3 separate regions of the Homo sapiens genome follow, and all the other regions are reported to be linked to region 2. The links are microRNA targets in miRTarBase. Many come from high-throughput screens and were not tested one by one. Region 2 holds a microRNA gene; each other region holds the end of a gene's coding sequence.
What was found. The annotated mature microRNA hsa-miR-548ai reads AAAGGUAAUUGCAGUUUUUCCC and lies in region 2 at 1,233-1,254, opposite strand. An mRNA with a match to its seed (bases 2 to 7 or 8) in the 3' UTR can be bound and repressed. Matches are read on the target gene's strand: a 7mer-m8 pairs with bases 2 to 8, a 7mer-A1 pairs with bases 2 to 7 and ends in A, and an 8mer does both.

Region 1: miRTarBase lists RIMOC1 as a target of hsa-miR-548ai. The part of its 3' UTR that is shown has no 7-base or 8-base seed match.
Region 3: the mRNA of SLC38A1 is a reported target of hsa-miR-548ai. Seed matches in the 3' UTR shown: 7mer-m8 at 1,836-1,842 and 7mer-A1 at 1,424-1,430.

What each region holds. Positions count from the first base shown.
Region 1 is chr5:41,916,546-41,919,806 of GRCh38, reverse strand. RIMOC1 (RAB7A interacting MON1-CCZ1 complex subunit 1) reads right to left here. Exons shown (of 6, transcript NM_175921.6): 6 at 1-2,791. The coding sequence ends at 2,508. Among named protein-coding and RNA genes, the nearest start is that of FBXO4, 7.1 kb to the left of the region's middle. RefSeq lists an enhancer at 1,301-1,460.
Region 2 is chr3:195,697,418-195,700,678 of GRCh38, reverse strand. MIR570 (microRNA 570) reads right to left here and starts at 1,278; the gene lies at 1,182-1,278. All of the region lies in intron 2 of MIR570HG (MIR570 host gene), which reads right to left. It overlaps LOC124909477 (a long non-coding RNA gene), which reads right to left. Exons shown (of 2, transcript XR_007096227.1): 2 at 1,609-1,649.
Region 3 is chr12:46,186,429-46,189,689 of GRCh38, forward strand. It overlaps SLC38A1 (solute carrier family 38 member 1), which reads right to left. Exons shown (of 17, transcript NM_030674.4): 17 at 1-2,643. The coding sequence ends at 2,542. Among named protein-coding and RNA genes, the nearest start is that of SLC38A1, 81 kb to the right of the region's middle.

The sequences.
Region 1 (3,261 bases), not on the chromosome of region 2:
AAAGGAGCATCTAATTTGACTGAAAAGGGCTTTAAAAAGCCTATGAAAACAGAATCACTGAAGCTGAGTCCTAAGAGGTAGGTAGGTATTCACTTGGTCACAAAGAAGGATGCAGAAGTAATGATGTGTGCAAGGCTACTGAGGTGGAAAACACACAAAGCGCATTTAGGGAAGAAGTGGAAGTACTTGCAATTGATCAGGATGCTCTAAAAAGAGGGATAGTCTGTGGTTCTAAAAACCGTATTAAAAATAATTTAAATCTTTATACTTAGAAAGCACAAAGGTATTTTCATAAGAAAACTTGCTAAAATGCTAAGTTAAATAAAAATCTTAGCTGTGTAATGATAAACAAGGGGGCTGGGGCAGGAACTGAGAAATTCCCTTTGCCACAGAGGCTCTATATCAGAATTTGTATGTTTACCAAAAGCAGCCTGGATTTTAACTGTTTGAGCAACACTGGACTAGAACATGATTACACAGGATGACTGCAGAGACATGGCTGGGAAGGTAGTCATTCTGTGTTGCCCTGATCTGCGGAAAATCCCAAAAAGAGAAAACTTACAAAGCAGAAAGGATTTTATATAACAGATGAGGACTTGACGTTTGGAAACACTGAGCTTAAAATTACTGTGGGATGTCTAATGAAGATATTTGATAGACAGTTAGAAACAAGGTTTAGAAAGCAAGAGATAAGTCAGGATACAAGTTACAGGTTTGAGACTCAGTCTGTTATTACAGGTGGTAAAAGAAGCCATAGTTATGAATGACATTGTATAAAATATGTAAAGTAAAAAAAAAAAAGAGAGAGAGAGAAAAAAATATAGTGAAGATCAATACCTAAAAGGTAGGCAGAAAGTGAGACAACACTTTGTGGGGAAATGAGAGAGACAGCGAAGATGAAACCAACATGTAGCACAGAGTCGCCTTTGATAGGAAGCAGGCAACCTCTTTTCCTCTAAAATGGGAAAATGAGTAAAGTTGGTAAATACAAGTTGACCTCTTCATAGTCTCAATTTTCTGTTCAATAGGAGAAAGAGCCATATGCTAGGGGAGGGGCAGAGGGCCTAAGGAAAGTAATGAAGTTTGGCTCAGCCACAGCGGGAAATGGGAGAGAGGCCACCCTAGTAACAAACATAAGGTTTACATTGAGGGCTTTTCTAAGGCTGAAGTGAGACACTTGTAGTGATTCTACTTTGAAGGACTACCCATCACAAAGAACTCAGCATCCCCGAAAAGGTAGATAATAAATAGGATTAATCTGAGGTTGAGGGCTTGCCAAAGGACTAGACTAAAAGACCAGGGAAAGAAGAATAACTGGTGAGATTAGTTCATATAGTATCCCATAAAGCTGAGGGTGGATAGGGAAGAAAGCCTGAAAGGGGCTGACAGTTTAGGAGGAAGGGGAGCAGTCAAGAAAAGGGGGTAAGAAGGAACTGAAGAATGTGGAATGAGCATAAAGGAGAGAAAAGTCAATAAAATAAGGAAGTGAAAAAACTGAAAAGAGGGCAGTTATCAGTTACTGAAATTTTACCAGAAAGAGAAACTCAAGGTGGTGACATTCAAAGTGCGGCCACGGGAGTAAGCTGCTGGAATGTAATAAAGTCACTGGGCAGAAGTCCAAGGTATCAGCAAGGTATCAGAAAGATCATCCAAAGATGACAACAGGAGTTGAGGTAGACAGAAAGACCATGAGCAAGATATCAAGTTAGGCTCTCTGGCCTTTAACACTCACCCCTATTATTAAAGGCAAAAAACATTAAAATTTCAGTATGTTATGAAAAGATGTGCTACAAAAACATATGAACTAATGGTAGACTAACCTAGCTTGGTTTTTATCTTCATTACTCACTTGAAAAGCCATGCATTGTCTTTTAAACAAAATAGAAAAATAATTTTTAAATTTTTATAAAATGCCTAAGGGAAGTAGAAATTTTAAATACAATTAGTAATACATGGCAAAATAATTAAACACAATGATTCCTTTGTGAGATCTTTCATTATTTACCTTATTGAAAATGGAATCTGAATATTAGTCATAATCTTTCATTTTGCCTACATTTATATCCATAGTATGTATTCAAAGCAGTGAAGTAACTTGACTTTAATTTCTGAAGCATGGCAAACTTCAAGGTAGTGAGATTTAAAAATAATCTAAAGATGATAAAAATGGTAAACTTGTGTTACATATACCACAATAAAAAAAAAAAGTAATAGAAAAAATCTTTGTAAAGCTAAATTGGGTTACTACTCATTATTAGTGACATAACATCTGTATTTTAAGGTGAGTTTGAACAACACTTTAGAAATTAAAGAATCATCCCTTCATAGGTTTACTAATATATAATGAAAAAGATGGTGATGTTGTTTTAGTAGGGTACCCAAGCTGGATATCTTTATGCAGTGTAATGTTCTCATATTCAGTATCAACAGGTCTTCTTTTTTGGAACTCTCTTTTCCATTTCATGGGTTTTGTTGTTTTTCTATTTGAAAAGGACTAGATGAACTTACTAGTTACAGCGATGATGAAAGAAGTTTAAAATTTGTTTTGCATTCGTTGTATTCCATTCTTGTTCTTTCAGGGGTCCTTCACACACAGATACATACTTTTTCAAGATTTTTTCTCCTACTTCTCGGAAATCCAAGGGTTCCTTGTATGTAGTGCAGCCCGCTCCAGACACACTAGTATCCACTTCATGATTTTCTGGTTGCTGATCAGCACAATACTTCGATCCCCAGTAACACATTTCTCCACTGTACATCATAGCCAGCAGATGAATGTCACTAAATATTCCTGGGAAAGTCATTTAGGTTGACAGATTAGAATTAAAAGCTTAAAAAGAAACCGTAGTTATTAACTAAACTCTAATTAAAGTTCCTTTTGTCATTAAGCATTTTCTATTCTCACTTTAACAGTAACACAAAAGCCAAATATGACTAACACAATCTTCATTTAATTAGCATTTTTTAATATCGATTTTACTGATAAAGGAGGCCCATTACAAAAAGAAAAACAGAGTACCAGAGAATTTTTTTAGAGAACCATTTAGGTGTTTTTGACCTTTTTGGGGTCCACTCTATAACTTCTTTGAGAATCTAATTTAAGGAATAGAACTTCTCCCAGAATATACACCCCAAATTCTGCAGTCAATTTCAGAGTACTTATAAACTCCCTGAATTACATCCATGGACACACCCTTTATTTTGGGGTATGCTCTAGGATAATTCATATAGCTAAAGTCAAGTATCCTAGACCTCTTATAT
Region 2 (3,261 bases):
GTCTCCTGGGTTTAAGCAATTATCTTGCCTCAGCCTCCCAAGGTGCTAGGACTACAGGCGTGTGCCACCACACCTGGCTAATTTTTGTGTTTTCAGCAGAGACAGGGTTTTGCCATGTTGGCCAGGTTGGTCTTGAATTCCTGATCTCATGTGATCTGCCTGCCCCAGCCTCCCAAAGTGTTGGGATTACAGGTGTGAGCCACCATGCCTGGCCTTATTTTGTTGATTCTAACACGTGGTGATATCTCCTGGTTTAAAGAAGCGTTTCCCTAATGGTATCAAACATCTTTTCATGTGCTTATTTGCAATCTGTATATCTTCTCCAGTGAAATGTTGCTTTGTATCTTTTGCTCATGTTCTAATTGCATTCTTTGTTTTGTTACTATTTTAAGACTTTTAAATGTATTCTAGATACTAGTCCTTTGCAAATATAGTCATGCATCGCATAAGGACATTTTGGTCAATGACAAACTGCATATAGGATGCGGTCCCATAAGATTATAATAATGGGCCTGAAAAAATTCCTGTTGCCGAGTGCAATGCTACTCATGTGTCTAGTGATGCTCGTGTAAAGCTACTGTGCTGCCACTTGCATAAAAGCACAGCGCACACCATTCTGTACAGTACACAATACTTGATAATGATAATAAATGTGTTCCTGGATAGCACAGCACACACCATTCTGTACAATACACAATACGTGATAATGATAATAAATGTGTTCCTGGTTTATGTATTTACTATAATATACTATTGATCAGTGTTTTAGAGTGTACTCCTTCTCTCTATAAAAGAATTAAGTGAACTAGCAGGCCCTTTGGGAAGTACTGTAGAAGGCATTGTTACCACAGGCGATGACAGCTCCATGTGTGTTATTGCCCCTGAAGACCTTCCAGAGAGACAAAATGTGGAGGTGGAAGACAGTGATACTGATGACCCTGACCCTGTGTGGATCTAGGCTAACATGTGTTTTTGTGTCTTAGTTTTCAACAAAAAAGTTTAAAAAGTTAAAATACTAAGTTTATAAAGTTAAAAAGTTACAGTAAGCTAAGGCTGACTTATTGAAAAAATGTGCTTATACATGTAATATAGCTAAGCTGGCTTTTGCAAACATAGAGTCCTGTGGATGTTATGCTGACTTCGGCTTGGGGTTTTTCACAGAGAGAAGCATGGCAAGGGGGACTCCATCAGGTTGGTGCAAAGGTAATTGCTGTTTTCGCAATTAAAATAATGGGAAAAACTGCAATTACCTTTGCACCCACCTAATAACTTATCTAGGGGACTCTTTCTCCACCCAAAACCCAGGACACTTGGCCCACAACTACATCACCACCCCAGGGTTCCAGGACACTTGGCCCATGACTACATCACCACCCCAGGGTTCCAGGACACTTGGCCCACAACTACATCACCACCCCAGGGTTCCAGGACACTTGGCCCATGACTACATCACCACCCCAGGGTTCTTTACTATAGTTTTCTTGTTCTTCCTTCAATTACGTGTGACATTCCCAACTCCAAGATTCTTCCAGTCCTTCTCTCCCCCTTCATCTAAAGCAGGCTGTCATGAGTTTCTGTCAGCTGCAATCAAGAGTCATGACTCTTACAGTGGGTAGGATTACTCCCTTTTTTGTTGTCATTAAGGAAACCTGTAAGAGGAAAAACAAACACACTTTATGTGGAGAGACAGGGAAAGTTGTTCTATTCAGTCTGGAATCTAGTCCCTCAGCTGGTGGTCCACCTTCGGATTCACTGGTCTTGGGAGTAAGACGGTGCCTTGTAGTCAAAGAAGTGAGGAATTCTGGTGCCTCCTGAGGGTGGAACTGAGGAGAGGAGACGTGAGAGAGGATGCTGGAAAGGAGGAAGCAGCCAGAATGTGTAGGGCCTTTGTGGCCAGGCCAAGGAGCCTCAGGGAATATCTGAGCGTCTTAAATAGGTCAGAGGGCAATTCTGAAAACAAACTCCTTCTACCTGCTGTGTAGGCAATGAGTTGTCATTGTTAGATAGAGGATAAAATGAACCCAATTAGATTATTGCCATCATTCCAGTGATTGAAGATGTTGATCTGTAATAGGGTAATGGCCATACACTTTCGAGAGGAAAAATGTTCAAATTTAGGGGATAATTAGAAATCTGCACTTACAGCCCTTGGTGACACTTTTCCTATGAGCCAAACGGAGAGGGGGAGAGAGAGAGAAGGTGGACAGTCACCGACATATGAGGCAGTGGAAGAGGAACAGGCATGGATAGGAAGAGAATTGTGGGACACACTGGGTTCGAGATGCCTGTGTGAGACAGTCTCATGAATATGTCCAGTAGTATATTGACCAAGCAAGTCTGTCAGGAGCCTCTGGAAATGAGGTACAGAATTTGATAGTCATCACTATGGAGATGGTAACCTGAGCCGTGAGAGAAGCTAAAATCCCCGGGGAGAGGATGTAGAATGAGAGGAGAAAATGGGCCAGGACAAACACAAGGAATGCTCGGAGGGAGGGGCAAAACCAGAACAGTACAGCGTCCCCAAACCAAGGAAAAGAATGTTGCCAGAAGAGGAGAGTCAGGCTGTTTCAAACTCTGCTAAGAAGTGAAGGATGTTGCATATTGAGTAGAGTCCATTGGGGTTACCAGTCAGGCTGACTCAGGGATCCTCTTTGGCAGAAGTAGTTCCAATGAAGTGGGAGGAGGAAGGGAGGAGCAGAGGCCAAATGAGCGTGAGGAGTGTTTAGGAGTTGACAGAAAGTGTATCCACTTTTTTGAGACGTTTAGCCAGGAAGAGGGAGAGACATGGGGCAGTAGGTGGAGGAGGAGATGAAATTAAGGGAGTGTATGGAGTTTTAAAATGGAAAGCTTGATCCTGTTTAAATGCTGTTTTATGCCCCTACGAGGGCGAGGTTAAACATACAGAATAGAGGCATAACTGATAGAGCCAAGACTCCCACCCAGGAGCGGGTTTCGAGCGGCACCTCTCTAATTCAATCCCAAAGGAAAAGAGGATACATGTGGGTCCAGGTACATGCTGAGGTTTGGTGGCAGGACTTTGAAGGAGGTCCCATCTGATGGCTTCTATTTCTCCTGTGAAATAGGGGAAGCCCTGTCTGCTGGTTGTGATGTGCCGTGACAGTCAGAAATGCGGGGAAAAGGGGACAGGTCTGAAACGGGAGGCGTTAAGAATGGGAAAGTAAAGGCAGGCGCGATGGCTCACGCCTGTAATCCCAGCACTTTGGGAGCTCGAGGCGGGTGGATCACCTGAAGTCGGGCATT
Region 3 (3,261 bases), not on the chromosome of region 2:
AAACTTCCATAGCACTTGACTGTGCTGTTTAAATTCGACCTAACATCTGTGATACATGTATTTTTGGCTACCAATTAACTATTCTGAATAAGAATAAGAGCAGTATACTTTACAGCTAATCTCACACAAAGGATGTAACTAATCAGTGATATTTGACGAATTATGGTAGGGTCTATTATATTCAGTCAACAACAAATTTAGAGAAACATACAAAGGTTTTTAAAAATATGGGTGGTGTCACACAGATCAACAACACTGTGCCTCCTCTAAATAAATCTATTTTAAATAAATATTCCTTGTATTGACACATGAAACCCAGAGGCCCAAAAATATCACTACACATCCCAGTTAATGATAAGGTTCTAAATTGACTTTGTGAGGGTAAAATGAATTGCTATAAAGTAACAAGGAAAATAGAAAGTAGCATAATATAGCTTGCAAACTAAATTATGTATTTTTAAAGGTACAGTCATCCCACTACCTGGCTATTTCATTACTTGGTGCTCTAGACAAGCTCCCAAGAACTGACTGGATCTTGGCTTGTTCTGTTTCTGTCATTGCTAATATAATATGGAAAACATTGCTGAAAAGAACAGAGATGGCCATGGATATGGCTAGGTTAGGTATTCATATCCAAATATCTGAACTCTAACCTAATGTGGATATGATTCTGTAGCATTATATTAAAAGCTATGATGATGCAATGCAGGAAATAACCTTTCATTCTCCCCCCTAGAGGATCACGACAGGTGCTTCAATGCCTGCCTTATCTATGGGACAGTAGTGTGATTCTCAGTGAGAGTGAAGGCCTTTGGGGATTTGAGTCAGGAAGGGAACATGGCTAAGTGCCTGGAAACTCTGCCAACAGTCTGCGGTTAGATTCTACTTGTCTCTGGATAAGAAATCTGTGCTCAGTGAACTTATGTGTTTGGAAAATTTAACCAGAATATAGAGGAAGCATAAGTCCTGTTTCAAGAGACCAGCTCACGGAGCATGCACATTTCTCACCATAGGCAAGCTATGGACAATTCAATCACATGGGATGGCCCCACTTAGGGGAATGCAGTTCTGGGTTTCCTTGCTATCCCTATTCTTTTTCAGCTACAAACTCTCTTCTTTTTCAGTCTCTTCAGTTTCCTTGTGCTCCCTTTAGGAGAGGGACAAGGGTAAGAGTACCAGGCAACTCTGTCCTCCTGCATGGACAGTTGAGACGGGCAGTAATGGCACAGTCCTTGGTTGGGGAAGAGAAGAGGAGACAGCACAGACACTGAGACCCCCTTGTCTTCCTCATCTGGGGGAAGGAAGGTACTCAGTGATTCTGTCAGAAGCTCTTCACAAAGACTATCTCTGAGGGTTTTTTTTTTTTTTTTTTCACAAGACTAGATGGAGAATTAATGAAGAAGAAATAGAAATGAGGCTTATTTAAGGTACAAAATTCTTGTATTTGTAATAACCTAGATTTATAGATATAAAACAAGTCTTTTAAAGACTTCCCTAAAATACTCAATATAAAACAGGAGTTACTTATCCTAGATCATCCTTAGTTAGGTACACATGATTCTCTGTGCAACTAGCTGGTGGACATGAATAAAAGCTGCTGGGCCTATAATGTACTAAAACATTTTTCTCCCTTCAGCAAGACAGGTAGGGTTGAAGGCTAAATGCATCAGAGGAGTATTTTCTTAGGCATTTTGGACAATCTTTTTGCAGTAGGTTCCATAGGTTTTCCCCAGCGAAAGTTGACTCAGACCAGAGTAACTCTGACACAAGTTGCCAAGAGGGAAAAAATACTTCATTTGCTAGATTACCCAAATGTGTAGCTTCATTTAATTACCAAGGTAAGAATCATCCCCAACCACTTTTCAGCTGAGAACACTTGCCAGAGAATGTCTCTGGATGGGAATAGATGTGGTACCAGCTAGGCCACTGGACTACCCGAGTTCAGCTGCCAGGAAATCAGAGCCACCTCAAATATTGGGCATGCTCTGATTCAGCAGTGGCAGTGCCCTATAACTTTCAGATGATTATCTCCATGTGCTATGTTAACCAAAATAGGCAAATTATTTACGAAACCATTTTTTTCTGTAAAGCAAAATAAATATATACAATTCAAGATTCTTTTCTCTTCTAAAAAGGTACAGATAGTGTGAGCTGAACATCAGTAGGAAAATTATTTCAGAATCTGGATGTATAATAAATAAACATTATTGTATATCATGTTTTCAAAGTTCTAAGAGACCGGGAAGCCACAAAACATAGAGTTAGATGGGTAAAAAATGATTGTGAAAAGTACTGGGAAATATGATTGTATGAAATTTGAAAAAAAAATTTCACAATCCCTAAATTGATCTCAAATCTTGGAGGGACATGAAGCATTATAGAACCATGTCTCTGTTTTGCAACCAAAAAGTTATTCCATTTTAAGTATCCTGTACATTTCTGTTTGCTTCTGTAAACTTGCAAAAGAAGTGGTGAGAGATTGCTGATGTGTGGGGACTTGACTGAGCAGACAACAGGGATGTTTCTTTTTCTCGGCGGGTTTCAGTGGCCTTCGTCACTACTCGATGAGCAGGCCCAGTCATAGATGACCAAGGGAATGCTGACCAAGGAGAACAACACCCCCAGGCCCAAGAAAAGGGCAGCCTGGAGCAAGAGAAAGGCAAGGGTTATTTTCAGTGCAGCAAAATTTTTCCACATGTACCTGGGGAAAAAAAATAGAACAGTTTTTCCTCTCCCTTTGTGTCCTCTGGTATTCAGAGTTTGTCACAACCATGGCTGAACTGTGAGAATCTTTCTAAAATTTTATGAATCTGATTCTGCAAGGATGGGAAAATAGGAAAAAAAAAAAACTAGCTAAGCAGAGTAGTCCTCTATGTCCCATTCTTTGACTTCATGGTCACCTCAAGTGTATGTATCCATTCTACAAATAACTGGGTATCCTTATGGCTTCTCTCAAACTAAGATTACAACCAAGGGGGAATAAAGGCCTTAGAAAATATCCAGGTCATTTTGTTATTCATTACCTACCAACTTAGCTTATCACTGGCAAGCAAACATTTCTGTTTGAAAAAGTGGAAAAAAAACATACAAAAGCAAAATAGATTTGATTAAGTGAAATAGGAAACAGGTGTCAAAAACTAAGTTACCTGAAGGGCTGATGAAGGCCATAGGTGGACAGATGATGATATGGTTTGGCTGTGTCCCTACCCAAATCTCATCTTGAATTTTAGCTCCCATAATTCCCACGTGTCATGGGAGTTA